Homo sapiens: one gene and its partner. The protein of the gene in region 1 binds, or shares a complex with, the protein of each later gene. Links are inferred from orthologs where the notes say so. Each region holds a gene or a part of one and is shown on either strand. Other genes may lie near its edges. The genes, in order: PDGFRB and PTPN11.

Region 1 (9,174 bases):
GACTACCTCTGGAATGCTGAGGGCCCCCACAGCTGAGGCACATTCTCAGGGTTTACACTGGATCCCCAGGGGCATCCCAGGCCCCATCCAGCCTCTCATCAAGGGGATCTGGAGTCAGAAACACCCAGGTGCAAATCCCAGCTCCGCCACTTCCGAGCTGTGGGACTTTAGGCAACTGACTCTGCGCACTTTCTCACCTGTAAAATGGGGAGAGTTTAGCTGGGTGCGGTGGCTCACGCCTGTAATCCCAGCACTTTGGGAGTCTGAGGCAGGCGGATCACTTGAGGTCAGGTAGTTCGAGACCAGCCTGGCCAACACGGTGAAACCCCATCTGTACTAAAAATATAAAAATTAGCTGGGCATGGTGGCGCACACGCCTGTAATCCCAGCTACTTGGGAGGCTGAGGCAGGAGAATCACTTGAGCTTGGGAAGCGGAGGTTGCGGTGAGCCAAGATCATACCATTGCACTCCAGCCTGGGCAACAGAGTGAGACTCCATCTCAAAAAAAAAAAAAAAAAAAAGTGGGGAGAGTTTATATATCTAATTTTGAGGTTGCTGTGACGGTTTATTTATTTATTTATTTATTTTTTTTGAGACAGTCTTGCCCTGTCGCTTAGGCTCACTGCAATCTCCGCCTCCTGGATTCAAGCAATTCTAGTGCCTCAGCCTCCTGAGTAGCTGGGATACAGGTGCGCACCACCACGTCTGGCTAATTTTTGTATTTTTAGTAGAGACAGGGTTTCACCATGTTGGCCAGGCTGGTCTCAAACTCCAGACCTCGGGTGATCCACCCGCCTCGGCCTCCCAAAGTGCTGGGATTACATGTGTGAGCCACCGTGCCCAGCCTCGATGGTTAAATTAATCCAGTAAATATTTACTAAGAATGTCCTGAATGCCCAGCATGTTCCAAGTGCTGAGGAATACAGCAGCAACTTTGAGGTAACAGATGTAAAGCACAATTGAAGTAGACACAGAAAGTGCTAAGAACGAGTTGGTTCCTGTTATATCATCATGCTCACACTGCTTCCCAGCTGAGGTGCTACAAGCCCTGACCCTGGGAAGGGGCCCAACACCCCTTCCCTTCCCTCCTAACGCTCTGGGTCAGAAGACAGGGGGCACCAAAAAGATTCCCATTCCAAGAACCCACTGCCCACTGGGTTCTGAATCAAATGCAAGAAATGGGTGGGCATTTCAGAAGACCTTTTCATCCCTTTCTCCCTTCCCACTGCATTCAGCAGCAGCCTGTTCTGAGCCAATGCCCAGAGCACCCTCCTTTAGCCTAGAAGGCAGCTGGTCTCAGAGTCAGACTGTGGCCTGTGCCTGGAGGATGGACACGGATCTTTGGAACATACATGGTGTCCAGGTCCCTTCTGTGGGCAGAGCCTTTTGCAGGTTGCAGATTAATTTCACAGCCAAGTGTTCCAATGCAGGAGGCCAGGAGAGCAGTGGTTCTCTCAGCCAGTGGCCAGAGGTCCAGCTGTGAAGTGCAGGAACTGTGGTAAGCACCTTGCCAATGCTGTTGTCTCATGGAGCCCACACACGGTCCTGCTGCTCACAGAGAAGGAGATTGAGGCCCAGAGAGGCAAGGTGCTGCCCCGGGGTCACACAGTCAGCCAGAAACTGACTCGGGGTCAATGCATAGTCATCTGATGCCCAAGCCTGGTGCTGGTTACCCACAGCGCTCACTGCCTCCCAGCTGCGGAAGGAGCCCAGAGATGGGATGTGGGGGGTCTGAGGTTGGCCACACGGTGGATTTAAATCAAGCCAGGGCAAGCACTGGGTCTCCTGACTCTGGATCCACGGTGCTTTCCACTGCCTGCCCCACATGTGTGGGCAATTATAAGTCCCAGCTCTTCTTCCCGCAGAGGAGGGGGGCTGCTGATAACTGCTGTCTGGGAGGAGGGTGCTGACCAGATGGTCTCTTTCCTCTCTCAAGACCAAGCCAGGGCCCGGGCAGACCTTGGAGCAGTCAGACCTGAGGCTGCACTTTCTGCTGGGGAAGGTGCTGAAGCCAGGAGCAGGCTCTGCAGGAGGATGGAGATTCTTCCCTCTGACTGGGAGCTTCCCGGGGAGCACGAGGTAAGCCTTTAGAGTCAGGCAGACTTCAGCCTAAACACCACCTTAACTCACCGTATGGCCCTGGGAAAGTCACTTAGCCTCTCCAGATCTCAGCTTCCTCATCTACAAAAAGTAGGTAATAACACTGATTTCAAAAACTTGCCATGAGGACTCCAAGGTGTGTGAAGTACCAGGCTCTATGCCTGCATGAGGTAGGTGTTCAGGGACTGTATGTCCCTGAAGGCTGTGGATTCAGGGTCTCCTGCTTGGAGACAGGGGAGGACTGCATGACTTCAGAACTTGTCACTAGAGGCCTCTGTGCAATTGGGAGGTCACAGAGGGAAGCAGAGATACTCCTCCCTGCTTGCAATGGAGGAATGCTGCCTGGAGTAGCCACACGATGTCCTGGAAGGGCACCTGTGAGAAGGCTGGAGGCCTGGGTTCTAGTCTCACACTTGGGAGCAGAAGGTCTTCAGTGAGCTCCTCCTCCCTTTCACCAGGACATTTTTTCAGCCGCACTGCCTATCCAGGGCTGGGCACTGGGGGAAGAGCACAGGATGGGGAAACCTTAAACCTTTCCCCAGCAGAAAGTGCGGCCTCAGTTCTGACTGCTGGGGCCTGAACAATCTCTGATGAACAAACAGAACATAAACAGATCACCAACAGGGGAGGGCCAAGTAACATGGCTTCAGCACAAAGTGCATGGCTAGCACTTGGAAGACAGGAAGAACCTAGGAAGGCTGCCTGGAAGAGGTGGTGTATGGAATATCCCTGAAAGAAAAGTGATGAGGAAGGGCATTCCAGAAAGGGGGAAGAGGGAGGGCAAATGCCCACAAGCAGGATGGTGCGCATTCCTTCTGGGAATTCTGGGATCTGACTGGCGGGAACAAAAGGCCCAAGTTTGGAGTAATGGGGCACGGGGAGATTCCAACCTCTCCAGGCTGTGCCACTTACTAGCTGTGTGGCTACAGTTATGTGGCTGCGTGAGCCTCAAGTTCCTCATGTATAAAACGGAGGTAAAAACAGTCACTGCCTCTGGGGTTGCTGGTGAGCATTACATGAGATCAGTCTCATAAAGCACTCAGCACAGTTGCGGCGTGCAGTAAGTGTCAAGCAGTGGCAGCCTCTGTTAGGAGCTGGGACTTTCTCCAGGCACTGGGGAGCCATAGGCGGATCCTGGGCAGGGAGGTGGTGTGATTGGATTTATGCTTTAGAATGGCATGGAGAAGGGGTAGAGTCCAGAAGGAGGGAGACAACGAGGAGGCCTGAGCAGCTGCCTGGGACCAAAGGAAATGGCCCAGTGGCTGACCCCTTCTTCACAGAGGAGCCCCCAGATCTGACAGCCAGGTCCCAGCCCCCAGACCCAGCAGCATGACCGCTAGGGGGTTGCCATGGCCGCCCATCACCCTCGAACTTTCCTAGCCCTCAAACTTTTCTAGCTGCTGGGGGTTTAGAAGGATATCTTAAGAATCTAGAAAATTTGCAAATCCATTTAAATCCCCAGAGGTTGCCTGGCGGCTGACTGGCCTAAAGCCAGACTGATTCTTAGAAACAAGGCTTGGGCCAAGGAACAGCGGCTATGGTCCTGAGGTCCCCAGTCCCCTGCTTTCTGTGTACCCTGCCTACCTTCTCCCAATTCCCCTCTCCCGCTCTTCCCAGCTCTCCCCACTCCCCATTGACTGTGCTGTGCTTTGGAGGCCCCCAGTCAGCACCCAGAAACCCCTGAGGATTGTTTGATGAAGGCAGGAGCAGCAGGGATGATGAGGTGGAGGCCACTCACCCCAGAGCAGGGGAAAGGAGAAAACTGGCTCCTCCATCCCTGACATCACCCACAGTCTCCCAGCCTCCTCTCATCTTGTTTTGTTAAAAATATCTTCCCTTTTTTTTTTTTTTTTTTTTTTTACCTACTCGAAGAGATGCAGGTTAGGGCAAAGGGACAGGGCATGGGGCTGGGGTTCCCACTTTTTCCAGCACTTACCTTGCTGCTGATGGCTTCTGGTGTGGGCACAGTTCCAGGCTCTGGACAGTCACCCCCTCCAGGAAGTCCTCCTTACTGCCCTCTCCCAGTTATCAGAAAGACTGCTGGTCCCAGAGTGGGTAACAGCTGAGTAGAAGGACAGGCAGGACTGGTGCAGGCTCCTGAAGGCTCAGGAGAACAGAGGGATGGAGGAAGGGGGCTGCTGTAGGGGAGAGGAGCGGCCCAGCTTCGCCTCACTCCCCAAGCATCCTTCGGGAGGAGCAGAGCCGCCAGAGGGGCCGCCCTGGGTCTGGCTGTCTGCGTTGGGCAGGGCGAGCACAGGCTGCTGCTGGGCAGCAGGGCTGAGGGGCCGGCTCTCTCCTCCTCCTTGTTGATCTCCTCTCTGGCTCCAAGTTGCTCACAGAGCGATCCTGGGTCCCAGATAGGGCGGGCAGTCACTGCTGGCTGCTGGCAGCCTCAGGAGCTCACACCACTATGGGCTTCCATGCCCCCCCACTTCCCCCGCCACTTTGGGGGAAAGGCTGCAGGGTGGCTTCTGATTGGCCCAGCTGGGAGAAGGGGGGGCGGCGGGGCAGGGAGGGTGGACGCGTGCGTCTGTTTTCAATTTCAGTTTTTTTCCCCCTCTCTCTTTCTTTTCCCCCAAGTTTCTTGTTTTTCTTCTTTTCACTCTGCTTACTCCCTCCCATCGCCCGTTCGCTCAGGATGTGAGGGGATGCTTAGAAATTCCACAGCCCACGCCAGCCGCCAGCTGCTGAGTCACTTTTGTCAAAGAGTGGCCTCGGCCCCACTTTCCCGATGCCCATGTCGGGTGGCGGCCTCCCCTTGCCATGGCACCCAGGGAGATCATTTCTCAGTGCCTCAGTTTCCCCATCTGTAAAGGAGACTCTGATCATCTCTGTGGTTGATTCAGTCAACCTTCATTCATTGAACAAGCATACTGAGCATTTACTACATTCTAACACTGTACTGGGTGCAGGGGACAGTAGCAAGACGTGGTCCTGACCTCAGAAGCACCAGGCTAGTGAGCAAGATATTCATTGGGCAAGCAGGTGCCCGGTCGGCAGACAGGAGGCTGAGAGTGCATTTAGAAGGACCCCTAACGGAAGCCTGAGAGAATCAGAGAGCACTGCTGAGAAGAGGTGACATGGAGGAGATGGAAAGATCCTCCAAGATGATCAGCCGTTTTTCAGAAGGACAAACCAAGGCCCAGGGGTGAATTGGCACAGAGAGGGAATGTGATTTGGTCAAGGTCATCCAGCACAGATTGGATATCTCTGGATATTGACAGATACATTCCTTTTCACGTCTCAAAGCCCCTGGGGTGCAAGGAGAGGATTATTTGCCCCATTTTATAGATGGGGACACTGAGGCCCAGAGGAGCAAAATAAGCTTCCCAAGCTTACGCAGCAATGGCAGAGCTGGGGCAGAACTAGGTCTCATGAGACACATGATGGAAGAGACACAAGTCATCTGACCCCCACCCGAGACCCCTATTCCAGTGTAGATGAACCCCCTGCCCTGCTTTCTTCCTAGGTTCCCCCTGTGGCTCTTTCATTCAGTCACTCAACAAGATACTTTCTTTTTTTTTTTTTTTTTTTTTTTGAGATGGAGTCTTGCTCTGTCTCCCAGGCTGGAGTGCAATGGCGCAGTCTAGGCTCACTGCAACCTCCGCCTCCCAGGTTCAAGTGACTCTCCTGCCTCAGACTCCCAAGTAGCTGGGATTACAGGCGCACACCACCACACCTGGCTATTTTTGTATTTTTTGTAGAGACCGGGTTTCACTATGTTGGCCAGGCTGGTCTCAAACCCCTGACTTCATGATCCACCCACCTCAGCCTCCCAAAGTGCTGGGATTACAGGCTTGAGCCACCGCACCCAGCCTCAACAAGATACTTTCAAGTATCCGTTTTGTTCCATTTCCATTCTCTGGCTCTCCTTTCCTACCAGGGTCTGCCAAGACTCCTCCAGTTCCCCCAGCTGGGTCTCTTCTTCCACCCTCAGCTTCTCAGATCAGAAGACATCTCCAGTTACAGACTCCTAGCCCTCAGATGGCAAAGGGCATTATTTTAGAAGGGCATATAGAGTGGGCTTACCACCCCTGCTCCCACTACTGCACCCACAGGGCAACTGAATTCCAGAGGGTGAAGAAAGCTGTCCCAGGTGACACAGGTAGAGGCTGGCTCTGCCCTCCTTCCCTCTGCGCCGCTAAGTCTTTCCTCCTCAGCTTCCCCCAGACCCCTGTTCACAGAGCAGAGGATTTGCGTGAGCTGGGATTCCATGCCCACCACAGTCAACTATCTTGCATTTCTTGGTCTAGTCCCAATCGGGATTGCCCAGCAGAGCATCTGGGCTGGACCACATAGAAGGAGAAGTGTTCTCAGACTGGTTCCCAGCCACGGGTTGGGGACCATAAGAGTACCCCGAGAGAGGGGGCCTGGCCAGGTCTTTGTGGCAACAGGGAAATAGGGGAATGTGAAAAGATCCCACAGGCCACAAGGTCAGGCTTGCACAGGGATTTCTTGTGCCCAAAGATTCCGTCAGAAATTTACGACTCCCCTCCTAGCATCTGCCTGGGCCATTCACCTCTGAATCCTTGGCTGACCCTCTGCAGCCAGGCCAGCCTGGGGGAGGCCACGAGACACACCAACCCCCTAGTCCCCAAAGAAGCTAGTCTGGGAGTCAGAAGACCCAGCCACAGACTTATCAGGAGAACTTGAATAAGTCCCTTGCCCTGCCTGAGCCTCGGTTTCCCTATTTGTACATAACAGTTGTGGACTCACTGTGCTACAAGGCCCTTGGGATGGTCCGTCTGCAATTTCCCTTAGAGCTGGACTCTAGCAAGGGAGAGGAGGCTGGTGGGCCCTAGGGCAGGGGTACAGCTGGGGCCAGAGATGCAGCACAAAGGGGAGGGGCAGTTGGCGGTGGCTCCCCTGGGAAGCTGGCGGCCTCCAGTTTCCGGCCAGCCCAGCCGTCCTGAGGCCCATCTGGAATTACTTAGCCCCTACTGCCATTAACCCTTGGTGGGCACCAGGACTGTCACTCCTCCTCTCAACTGAGATATGGGTGGGAGGTGCAGAGCTACAGGGAGCAACCCAGGGCACTCACCAAGGGGCAAAATTGTCATGATTGACAGAGGAGGTTGGAGAGCTAGAGATAGAGCTGGGTTCGAATCCCAGCTGCTCCAGTTTCAAGCTACATGAGCTTAGGCAAGTCACTTAAACTCCTGGCCTTGGTTTCCTCCTCTGGAAAATGGAGACAAGTCAAAGACTGATTCATAAGACTCTTCGGTTTGTACAAAGGACTTAGTACATTGCCTCGAAGTGTACTAAGTGTACACTATTACTGAAATAGTGAGTTTCCTCATTCGAGCAGCATTCCATCACTGTGTCTTCCTGGGCGGAGCCTCCCTTTTCTGGGTCTTGGATTCCCCTTGTGCACTCTGCCTTCAGCGGCAATGGACGGGGCACATGGGCAGTGCAGCACCATCACCCTGGGGTGGTCAGCATGGCCCCCAGCCCCACTGTGGACAGGACAAGCTATGAACATCCTCACACCTACACAGATACTGGGAACCCAGTCCAGCCTTGGACAATGCTGTCTTGGGGAAGCCTGGGCTGAGAGTAGGTGGGCAGAGCATGGAATGTGGGGAGCCCTGCCTGAAGTGGACTGGGATGGGGTACAGTGGGAGAGGGGGGCTCTGGGCCTTAGGGTTCCACACTGCCTTCCCCCACAGCACGGTGGCACACTCAAGAGTTAAATGTCTGGACTCTGATGTTGGCAGCTCCAACCCAGCTCCACCACTTCCCAGCCATGTGACGCTGGGAGATGATATGACCTGAGCTCTCTGAGCCTCAGTACCTTCAACTGTGAAATGGGGACACATGTGCCTACCTCACAGGGTTGTGGAGAGACCTGAATAAGCCATGCCCACAGGCATTTTGTCAAGCCTCGAGCAAAACAAGAAAGTGCCACAAAAGGTGACTGATCCAGCTGGGCGCGGTGGCTCACGTCTATAATCCCAGCACTTTGGGAGGCCAAGGTGGGTGGATCACCTGAGGTCAGGAGTTTGAGACCAGCCTGGCCAACATGGAGAAACCCAGTCTCCACTAAAAATACAAAATTAGCTGGGTGTGGTGGTGCATGCCTGTAATCCCAGCTACTCGGGAGGCTGAGGCCAGAGAATTGCTTGAACCCGGGAGGCAGACGTTGTGGTGAGCTGAGATGGCGCCATTGCACTCCAGTCTGGGCAACAAGAGTGAAACTCCATCTCAAAAAAAAAAAAAAAGGTGACTGATCCTCAGGTGTTACCAAGAGCTGCTGTCATAGAAGTCCACCATCAGGGCTGGAGGGAAGCTCACCAACATGCTCATTACACAGCCGGTATGACTGAGGCCAGTGATGGAAAGGAACTTGTGCAAGGCCTTGTGATGTGTCAGCCACAGACTGGGACTGGAACCGAGGCTTTCTGTCTAGACTCATAAGCCCATGCTCTTCCCCAGAGGAGGGAACCAGGCTGAACAGACCCCCGTGCTAAGACCCCCCTCCCCCACCCACGCTTGTCAGAGCCGGAAGTTGCTGCTCTCAGTGGGGCAGGGGGAGGGAACCGGAAAGGGAGCCTGAGTGGGAGAATTCCCAGGAGGCCGCTCAGCCCTCACTCAGGCAGGGCAGCGGCCACCACATCTGGCTCTCCCACGCTCCTGGCTCTGCCCCCACTCCCAGGCTCCCCAGGCAGAGTTGTGGGGTGGGGGTGGGGGGTGATGAGGAAGCAGCACACATACCCCAGGCGCTCACACAGTCATCTTAGACGTCAGGACCCTAAGATATGTCCCTTCTGCTGGCATGGACACTGAGGCCCAGAGAGTGGAGGGGACTTGTCTGAGGTTCACGGTGGGGCTGAGGGAAGCTAGAATACAGGACTCCTGATCCCCAGCTCAGTGTCCTTCCACCCATGCATGCCCTGAGCAGAGCACGTAGATCCTTGTGCCTGTGGCTGGGGAGCCAGAGAGGCACAGAGTGGGAACTGTCCCCCTACCTCCTGGACACTCAGTGTAGTGGCTTTCTGAGTGGGCAAAAGACCAGCAGGGGCCTTGGGCCACATTCCCTCCCTAGATTCTTAGGACTGTCTTACTGAGCCAGA
Region 2 (9,071 bases), on another chromosome or scaffold:
ACAAATATTTATAAATTGTAGTCCTCAAAAAGCATAGAATAATCATTCCCATAAAACAGAACAGGAAAATAAAATGATGTAAACATGAGTTAAATGTAAATCTCATTCAACAAACATTTATGGAGTTTCTTCTGTGTACTAGGCACCGTGCTACATGCTGGGGACAACTGCAAAGGTAAATATGCCAGAATCCTTGTTTTTGAAGTTTTCTGTCAAATGGATGAGGAGAAAATGAAAGAGATCACATTGTCAATGGGTAAGTGATATAGAAGAGTGCAATGGGAACACAGCACATTCCCATCAGGGACATTCTCCAACCCAAGTTAGTTTCAGGAAAGAGATCAGTTCACTTAAAGTCAGGAAACAACAGATGCTGGAGAAGATGTGGAGAAATAGGAATGCTTTTACACTGTTGGTGGGAGTGTAAATTAGTTGAACCATTGTGGAAGACAGTGTGGTGACTCCTCAAGGATCTAGAACCAGAAATACCATTTGACCCAGCAATCCCATTACTGGGTATATACCCAAAGGATTATAAAACATTCTACTATAAAGACATATGCACACATATGTTTATTGCAGCACTATTTACAATAGCAAAGACTTGGAACCAACCCAAATGCCCATCAATGATAGACCGGATAAAGAAAATGTGGCACATACACACCATGGAATACTATGCAGCCATAAAAAAAGAATGAGTTCATGTCCTTTGCAGGGTCATGGATGAAGCTGGAAACCATCATTCTCAGCAAACTAACACAGGAACAGAAAACCAAACAATGAGAACACATGGACACAGGGAGGGGAACATCACACACACTGTCTGGGGATGGGGGCAAACTCCTGGATTCAAGTGGTCCACCTGCCTCACCCTCTCAAAGTGCTGAGATTACAGGAGTGAGCCACCACGCCCAGCCTATCATCACTTTTTCACTGATGCATTAAAGGGGAGGGAGAGCATTAGGACAAACACCTAATGCATGCAGGACTTAAAACCTAAATGATGGGTTAATGTGTGCAGCAAACCATGATGGCACATGTATACCTATGTACAAACCTGCACGTTCTGCACATATATCCCAGAACTTAAAGTATAATCAACAAAAATAATTTAAAAAAAAAAGAAATCAGTTCACTTAACTTACCAGAGTTATCAATTTGAACTCTGAAATTAAAGCCACCACATTTGGCACGTCAAAGCTGGAGGATCACTTGAGCCCAAGAGTTCAAGACCAGCCTGGGCAACACTGCAAAACCCCATCTCTACAAAAAAATACAAAAATTAGATGGGCATGGTATCGTGTGCCTGTAGTCCCAGCTACTCGGGAAGCTTAAGTAGGAGGATCACTTGAGCCCAAGAGTTCAAGACCAGCCTGGGCAACACTGCAAAACCTCATCTCTACCAAAAATACAAAAATTAGCCAGGCATAGGGGCATGTGCCTGTAGTCCCAGCTACTCAGTAGGCTGAGATGGGAAGATCACTTGAGCCCAGGGAGGACGGGGCTGCAGTAAACCGAGATCACGCCACTACACTCCAGCTTCGGCGACAGAGCGAGACCCTGTCTCAAAAAAAAAAAAAAAAAAGCCACCACAAGGTGTTTCTCTTTTACTCATACTCATTTGCTGCACTAAGGCTATAGATTGTTTCTAAAGACCCCAGTGCATGCTGGAAATCTTTCGAAGAAATTAGATCCTTTTGTTTCTCTGAGATTTTGCCACCAGTCCAAACCAAAAGAGCCAAATGGAGCGGCTAGCACATCCATTGACTACTCACTGCCAACTCCCTTCCCTCAGAACACAATGCTCTTCTGTTTCGAAGAAGCCCTCTCAGCAACTTGCTCCGTGTCAATCAATGGCCGAATTAAAAAAGGACGTCAGTTTCAAGTCTCTCAGGTCCAATTCCAAACACAAGAGCAACTTCTCCTCCACTAAAAATAGGATATAACAACTCACGTAAAAACAGTTTTTTAATAACTTACCTCAAATTCTTCCCAAAAGCCTTGTTTGACTTTATCTGTGGTCTCAGCTAATTTGCTTAGTTCTCGAACTCTGCTTTCTATTTCAGCAGCATTTATACGAGTCGTGTTAAGGGGCTGATCGAGTACAGCAGTTGATGTAAAATAAAGAAAATATTACAGAAAACGGTGTTAATGCAAAAAAAAAAAAAAAAACATGTCTATGTTGATATTCATAAAGGCACGGACAGAGGGTTCATAGGACCCTGTAATTCACAATAAAAGTTTTCAAATCGTTTCACCGTGTTTTCTGTTCAGCCAGAAAATGTATCTTTCTTCAGTCTTCACATACACTTTACTCTGCTGATATAAATTCAAGCCTATTTTTCTTTATGAATAGACCACATTATTTAGAGAGATTATATCATTTTCCACTATCATAAAGGTGAAATTTGAAATAGCAACAATGCCAAAGTGAATAAGTGAGGTTACCTAAAGGTAACCAGAAGTGGATCTATAATGAAAACTTGCTTTAAAACTCTGTACAGCCTTAGGCCAGATGCAGTGGCTCATGCCTATAATCCCAGCACTTTGAGAGGCTGAGGCAGGCAGATCACTTGAGGTCAGGAGTTCAAGACCAGCCTGGCTAACATGGTGAAACCCCATCTCTACTAAAAATACAAAAATTAGCTGGGTGTAGTGGCACCACCTATAATCCCAGCTACTCAGGAGGCTGAGGCAGGAGAAGCTCTTGAACCCGGGACGCAGAGGTTGCAGTGAGCCAAGAACACGCCACTGCACTCCAGCCTGGGCGACAGAGCAAAACTCCATCTCAAAAAAAAAAAAAAAAAAAAAGAACCTCTGTAATGCCTTTTACAGATAAATATGGGAATAATATAAATCTGGAATATGTTTCCAAGTACTATAGCGGCAGTCAGTGAGTGGAATCATAATAAGAAAAGATTTAGGGCCGGGCGTGGTAGCTCACGCCTGTAATCCCAAAACTTCGGGAGGCCAAGGCGGGCAGAAAACCTGAGGTCGGGAATTCAAGACCAGCCAGGCCAACATGGTGAAACCCCATCTCTATTAAAAACACAAAAACTAGCCGGGCATGGTGGTGGGCACCTGTAGTCCCAGCTACTCAGGAGGCTGAGGCAGGAGAATCGCTTGAACCCAGGAAGCAGAGGTTGTAGTGAGCCAAGATTGCAACACTGTACTCCAGACTGGGTGACAGAGTAAGACTGTCTCAAAAAAAAAAAAAAAAAAAAAGATTTGATAGTTGAAGCTGCAATGGGTACATGGAGGCTGATGATACTATTCTGTCTACCTCTGTATGTTTGCAAAATTCTCTATTAGGATTTGTTTTAAGTTTTTAAGGAGAAAGCTTGAGCTTTCCAATCTGCTCACCTGCTTGAGTTGTAGTACTGTACCCAATGTTTCCACCATAGGATTCTTCTTATAATGTTCCACAAGATCTGTCAAAGAATCAAACCGTTCTCCTCCACCAACGTCGTATTTCAGTTCCTTTCAAGATAAACACATGACATTTATTATTTGTTACCTTTATGTTACATTAGTGTTTTCAAGCACTCTCATGTTCACTGCAGCATTATTCACAATAGCTAGTATATAGAGACAACTTAAATGTCCATCAAAAGACAGATAATAGGCTGGGTGCAGTGGCTCACGCCAGTAATTCCAGCACTTTGGGAGGCCAAGGCGGGCAGATCATTTGAGGTCAGGAGTTCGAGACCAGCCTGGCCAACATGGTAAAACCCCATATCCACTAAAAATACAAAAATTAGCCAGGCTTGGTGGTGGACACCTGTAATCCCTGCTACTCAGGAGGGTGAGGCACGAGAATCACTTGAGCCCAAGAGGCAGAGGTTGCAGTGAGCCAACTGTGCTTCAGCCTGGGAGACAGAGGGAGACTCTGTCTCAAAAAAAAGATAAATAATAAAAATGTGGTGTGTGTATACAAATATACTAAAAGTGTAAATATACTCAATATACTCAAGTATGATAAGTATAATAATATATTAAATATGCTAATATACTAATACAGTAACTATACTAATATATTAAGTATAATAAAAGCATAGACGAACTTGACTAAGTAAGCAAAGAAAATCTGACTTTGGATCAGGCACAGTAGTTCACATCTGTAATCCTAACACTTTGAGAGGTTGAAGGAGGCAGGCCTCTTGAGCACTAGTTCAAGACCACACTGGGCAATGCGGCAAAACACCATCTCCACAAAAAATACAAACACTAGCTGGGCATGGTGGCACACACCTGTAGTCCCAGCTACTCAAGAGGCTGAGGGAAGATCAACTGAGCCCAGGGAGGTTGCACTCCAGCCTGCGTGACAGAGCAAGACCCAGTCTCAAATGAATAAACAAATGAATATTAAAAAAACAAAAACAAAAAAAAAAAAAAAACAGAAAATCTGACTTTGAATGTAATGGTGTTTGTCCTCTTCCAGCAGAAAAATCACCCAAAGATTTGGGTCACCAGACCCAACGTGGTGAAACCCCATCTGTAGGTGATAGAGCAAGACCCTGTCTCAAATAAATAAATAAATAAATAAATAAATAAAAGACAATCTGACTTTGAATGTAATGGTGTCTGTCTTCTGTCAGCAGAAAAATCACCCAAAGGTAACATCTTGCCAGACCCATTTTTCAACTGGAGATTTACCTGACAGCGAATCATAACATGGGTCACTTTAGACTTGCCGTCATTGCTCTCCCCTTTGTCATCACCAGTGCGCACAGAAAGAACAAAATCTCCAGGGTGGCTCTGGCTCTCTCGTACAAGAAAACTACCATGTTTTCCTTTTTCAGTTAATAATTTCTCTGCTTCTTTCCCAGAGAGATGTCCATGAAACCACCTAAAGTTTTTAAAAAATAAAAAAGAATTTAGCTCTACTATGGGTTCATGTTGTTCTTTCACAAAACTACTGTATACAGTCAGCTCTCCTAAACACAATTAAAAAGTAGACACATTCCTCCAAGGGATTGATCAATCCCACCTGAGACAGAAAATCTGCATCCCATGCAGGCAGGAAAAACCACAAAGATGGTAAGAATGACCACTAAACTTCTTAAATGAGTCCACAGTCCTTTAGAGACAAATGCCCCAATCTTTCCTGTTTTTTTTTAAATCCCTCCTCTTTTAAAAATGCAATTTGCCATTCGTCCATTGCCCAATCTTAAAAGGACCAACTGTTTAATTATAGCCATTTAAAGAAGTTACAGGCCATGCATAGTGGCTTATGCCTGTAATCCCAACACTTTGGAAGGCCAAGGCAGGAAGATCACTTGAGGCCAGGAGTTCAAGACCAGTCTGGGCAACACAGTGAAATCCCCATCTTCACAAAACAATTAAAAATTAGCCTGGCATGGTGGCAACTGCCTGTAATCCCAGCTATACACAAGGCCGAGGCAGGAGGATCACTTGAGTCCAGGAGGTCGAGGCTGCAGTGCGCTATGATCATGCCACCGCACTCCAGCTTGGGTGACAGAGCAAGACCCTGTCTCAAGAAAAAAAAATAAAAGTCGGCCGGACGTGGTGGCTCATGCCTGTAATCCCAACACTTTGGGAGGCCGAGGCAGGTGGATCACCTGAGGTCAAGAATTCGAGACCAGCCTGACCAACATGGTGAAACCCTGTCTCTGCTAAAAATACAAAATTGGCCGGGTGTGGTGGCAAGTGCCTGTAATCCCAGCTACTCAGGAGGCTGAGGCAGGAGAATCACTTGAACCTGGGAGGCGGAGGTTGCAGTGAGCTGAGATCGCACCATTGCACTCCAGCCTGGGTGACGAGCGAAACTCCATCTCAAAAAAAATAAATAAATAATTTGTAAAAATAAAGTCAAAATAAAGAAGTTGTAATAAAAAGTTGTAATAGAGACAGGCACGGTGGCTCACGCCTATAATCCCAGCACTTTGAGAGGTCAAGGTGGGCGGATCACCTGAGTTCAGGAGTTTGAGACCAGCCTGGCAAACATGACAAAACCCTGTCTCTACTAAAAATACAAAAATTAACTGGGCATGGTGGCACATGCCTGTAGTCCCAGCTACTCGGGAGGCTGAGGCAAGAGAATTACTTGAATCTGGGAGGCGGAGGTTGTAGTGAGCCGAGATCGCGTCACTTGACTCCAGCCTGGGTGACAGAGTGAGACTCCATCTCAAATAAATAAATTAAAAAAAAGAAAGAAAAAGTTGTAACAGAGACAGAAAATCATTTTGAATGTTTGTCCTTGCCTTGGCATGTGAACACTCAATTAAAAAGGATCTTCATTATAAATTAATTCAAACATTCCAACCTTTTCCATATATACAACCTATACTTCAACAGCCTCCAGTGTCTTTGGACTATATCCTGGGTGATCATCTCAAACTGTATAATGCACATAAGACTTGGAGTAAAAATGAGGGATTTTGCTAAAAATATGAATTCCCAGGCTCCACAACCAGCAATATCAATACATGTAAGTCTGAATGAGGCCCAGGAATCTGCATTTTAACCAGCACATCAGACAGTCCTGATGTAGGCATCCAAAGCCATCCAAGGACAGACTTTGAGACAATACTGCTCCATGTTTTTTGGGAAGCATCTTAACATAGTTCTAATAATAAAGTGGCTTTTTCCCTCAGGATCTTGGTCAGAAAGCAAGTACTATCATGGCAGGTGGTGTTAAGGGCTCATCATCAAAAGAATAAACTTTGAGTTATTCTTCATCCATACTCAACTGAAAACAGTAAAATTTAGAAATAAACTGTACAGAGTTGGCTGACAGCCTTTTGCCTGAAGCTACGGTGGTAGCTAGAGAAACAAATTATCAGCACATAATAGCACTGACATAAAGGTATAAGCTGAAAAAATCATACCTGAAGACACAAAATATACAAACTAACTAAGAGATCCTGAATTTGCACCAAGTCAGAGAGGAGATTGGGAATGTACAAAACGAATACAATCAATAAATAAGTCAAGCCCATGCTTTCATCAGCCTAGTTCCAACACAGGGGGAAAGATCTCGAAAATAACATAATTTTCTCTAAGCAAGGTCATTCTCACATAATTGTGGTGATAACATTAAAAGAACTGATGAAAAAGCTGACCCTCTGAGCTCTCTGCTTTTCCACTTCTGAGCTTAAACTGACATCTGTTGGTGACATTGCTGAATAACTGGTCGAGAGCCACCATAGAAAACTGCTGCTATTTTGGTGTCTCCATTATCATTTGTTTTCCTCTAATAACTCTCAAAGATTATCTGCTGAAGTTCAATAAGTCTTAAAACTAATACACGTACCAAGTATATGCAGGAATGGTATGCAACCCCTATAGGATGAGTGTAAGTAACACTGATTAAAACTTTTGCAGGAAAAAGGTACTCTGAAAATAATTTGATGCTATTAGTCTCACTTTAGTAATTCTTTAAAGATTACAGCTCAAAAAACAGTCACAAGCCTTTGGAGTCAGAGAGTCATACACAGACCGTCATGCATTTCTGACACTCAGGGCACAAGGGAGCAGCAGACTTTGTGGTCACTAAAATGTTACTGACCTTTCAGAGGTAGGATCTGCACAGTTCAGAGGATATTTAAGCTCAATGACATCTCCATTCTTCTCTTTTAATTGCCCGTGATGTTCCATGTAATACTGGACCAACTCAGCCAAAGTGGCAAATTTCTCCCCTCCATACAGGTCATAGTAATCACCAGTGTTCTGAATCTTGATGTGGGTGACAGCTCCATTTCTTCTAAAATAGTCCATTGGAAAGGGAGGCAAGGGGACAAATAAAGAGTTACACCAGTAAAATCAGATCTCATCTTCCACGTCGGATTTTACCTAAGTGTTGAAAGAAACCCAAGGAACGAATTTACCTATTCCCTATAAGAAATACGATGGGTGAAATAACCACATGTCAACCAACTCAACACAAAGGTCTTTATTAGTATCTTTACCTTGCATATCTTTTTTTTTTTTTTTTGAGATGGAGTTTCGCTCTTATTGCCCAGGCTGGAGTGCAATGACGTGATCTCGGTTCACCGCAACCTTCGCGGTGGATTTACATACATTATAAATCCAGGTTCAAGTGATTCTCCTACCTCAGCCTCCCAAGAAGCTGGGATTACAGGAATGCGCCACCACGCTCAGCTACTTTTGTATTTTTAGTAGAGATGAGGTTTCTCCATGTTGGTCAGGCTGGTCTGAAACTCCTAACCACAGGTGATCCACCCACCTCGGCCTCCCAAAGTGCTGAGATTACAGGCGTGAGCCACCACGCCCGGCCTACCTTGTATATCTTCTATTTTGAATGACTGGCCTATCGAATTGCATATATTAAGTGACAATAACTGTATAGCTACCAAAACACTTGTACAAAAATATTCATTGCCACTTTATTCATAATAGAAAAACATTTTGTTTTTTAATCATAAAAATGTATAAACAAATAGTGCTACATTACTATTCATACAATGGAATACTATGCATTATAAAAATTGTTGTGTTACTACTCATACAATGGAATACTATGCAGCAATTTTTTTGTTTGTTTGTTTGTTTTTGAGACAGAGTCTCACTCCATCACCCAGGCTGGAGTGCAGTGGTGCAATCTTGGCTCACTGCAAGCTCCACGTCCCGGGTTCACACCATTCTCCTGCCTCAACCTCCCAAGTAGCTGGGACTACAGGCGCCCGCCACGACGCCCAGCTAAATTTTTTTGTATTTTTAGTAGAGACGGGGTTTCACCATGTTAGCCAGGATGGTATTGGTCTCCTGACCTCATGATCCGCCGCCTGCCTTGGCCTCCCAAAGTGCTGGGATTACAGGCGTGAGCCACTGTGCCCGGCCACTATGCAGCAATTAAGAAAAAAAAAAAAGTGATGGCCAGGCATGGTGGCTCACGTCTGTAATCCCAGCACTTTGGGAGGCTGAGGTGGGAGGATCACCTGAGGTCAGCAGACCGATACCAGCCTGGCCAACATGGTGAAACCCCGTCCCTACTAAAAATACAAAAATTAGCTGGGCGTGGTGGCAGGCACCTGTAATCTCACCTACTGGGGAGGCTGAGGCAGGAGAATCGCTTGAACCCGGGA

Evidence for each region.
Region 2: the proteins of PDGFRB (region 1) and PTPN11 are in contact, whole or in part, in a crystal structure (PDB 1AYA), measured with the Mus musculus proteins. The link is inferred for Homo sapiens from one-to-one orthologs. Residues at the interface, in NP_032835.2 of Mus musculus: Ser1005, Val1006, Leu1007, Tyr1008, Thr1009, Ala1010, Val1011, Gln1012, Pro1013; in NP_001103462.1 of Mus musculus: Gly13, Val14, Glu17, Arg32, Pro33, Ser34, Lys35, Ser36, Thr42, Thr52, His53, Ile54, Lys55, Leu65, Gly68, Gln87, Leu88, Lys89, Glu90, Lys91, Gly93, Ile96.

What each region holds. Positions count from the first base shown.
Region 1 is NC_000005.10:150,151,360-150,160,533, forward strand, and holds the start of PDGFRB (platelet-derived growth factor receptor beta isoform 1 precursor), read right to left. Parts: upstream 4,487-9,174; 5' UTR 4,038-4,486; intron 2,599-4,037; exon of another isoform or gene 980-2,598; intron 1-979. UniProt on the Homo sapiens protein: Tyrosine-protein kinase that acts as a cell-surface receptor for homodimeric PDGFB and PDGFD and for heterodimers formed by PDGFA and PDGFB, and plays an essential role in the regulation of embryonic development, cell proliferation, survival, differentiation, chemotaxis and migration.
Region 2 is NC_000012.12:112,448,976-112,458,046, reverse strand, and holds part of PTPN11 (tyrosine-protein phosphatase non-receptor type 11), read right to left. Parts: intron 7,730-9,071; coding exon 7,535-7,729; intron 4,853-7,534; coding exon 4,660-4,852; intron 3,484-4,659; coding exon 3,367-3,483; intron 2,098-3,366; coding exon 1,984-2,097; intron 298-1,983; exon of another isoform or gene 143-297; intron 1-142. UniProt on the Homo sapiens protein: Acts downstream of various receptor and cytoplasmic protein tyrosine kinases to participate in the signal transduction from the cell surface to the nucleus. Positively regulates MAPK signal transduction pathway. Dephosphorylates GAB1, ARHGAP35 and EGFR.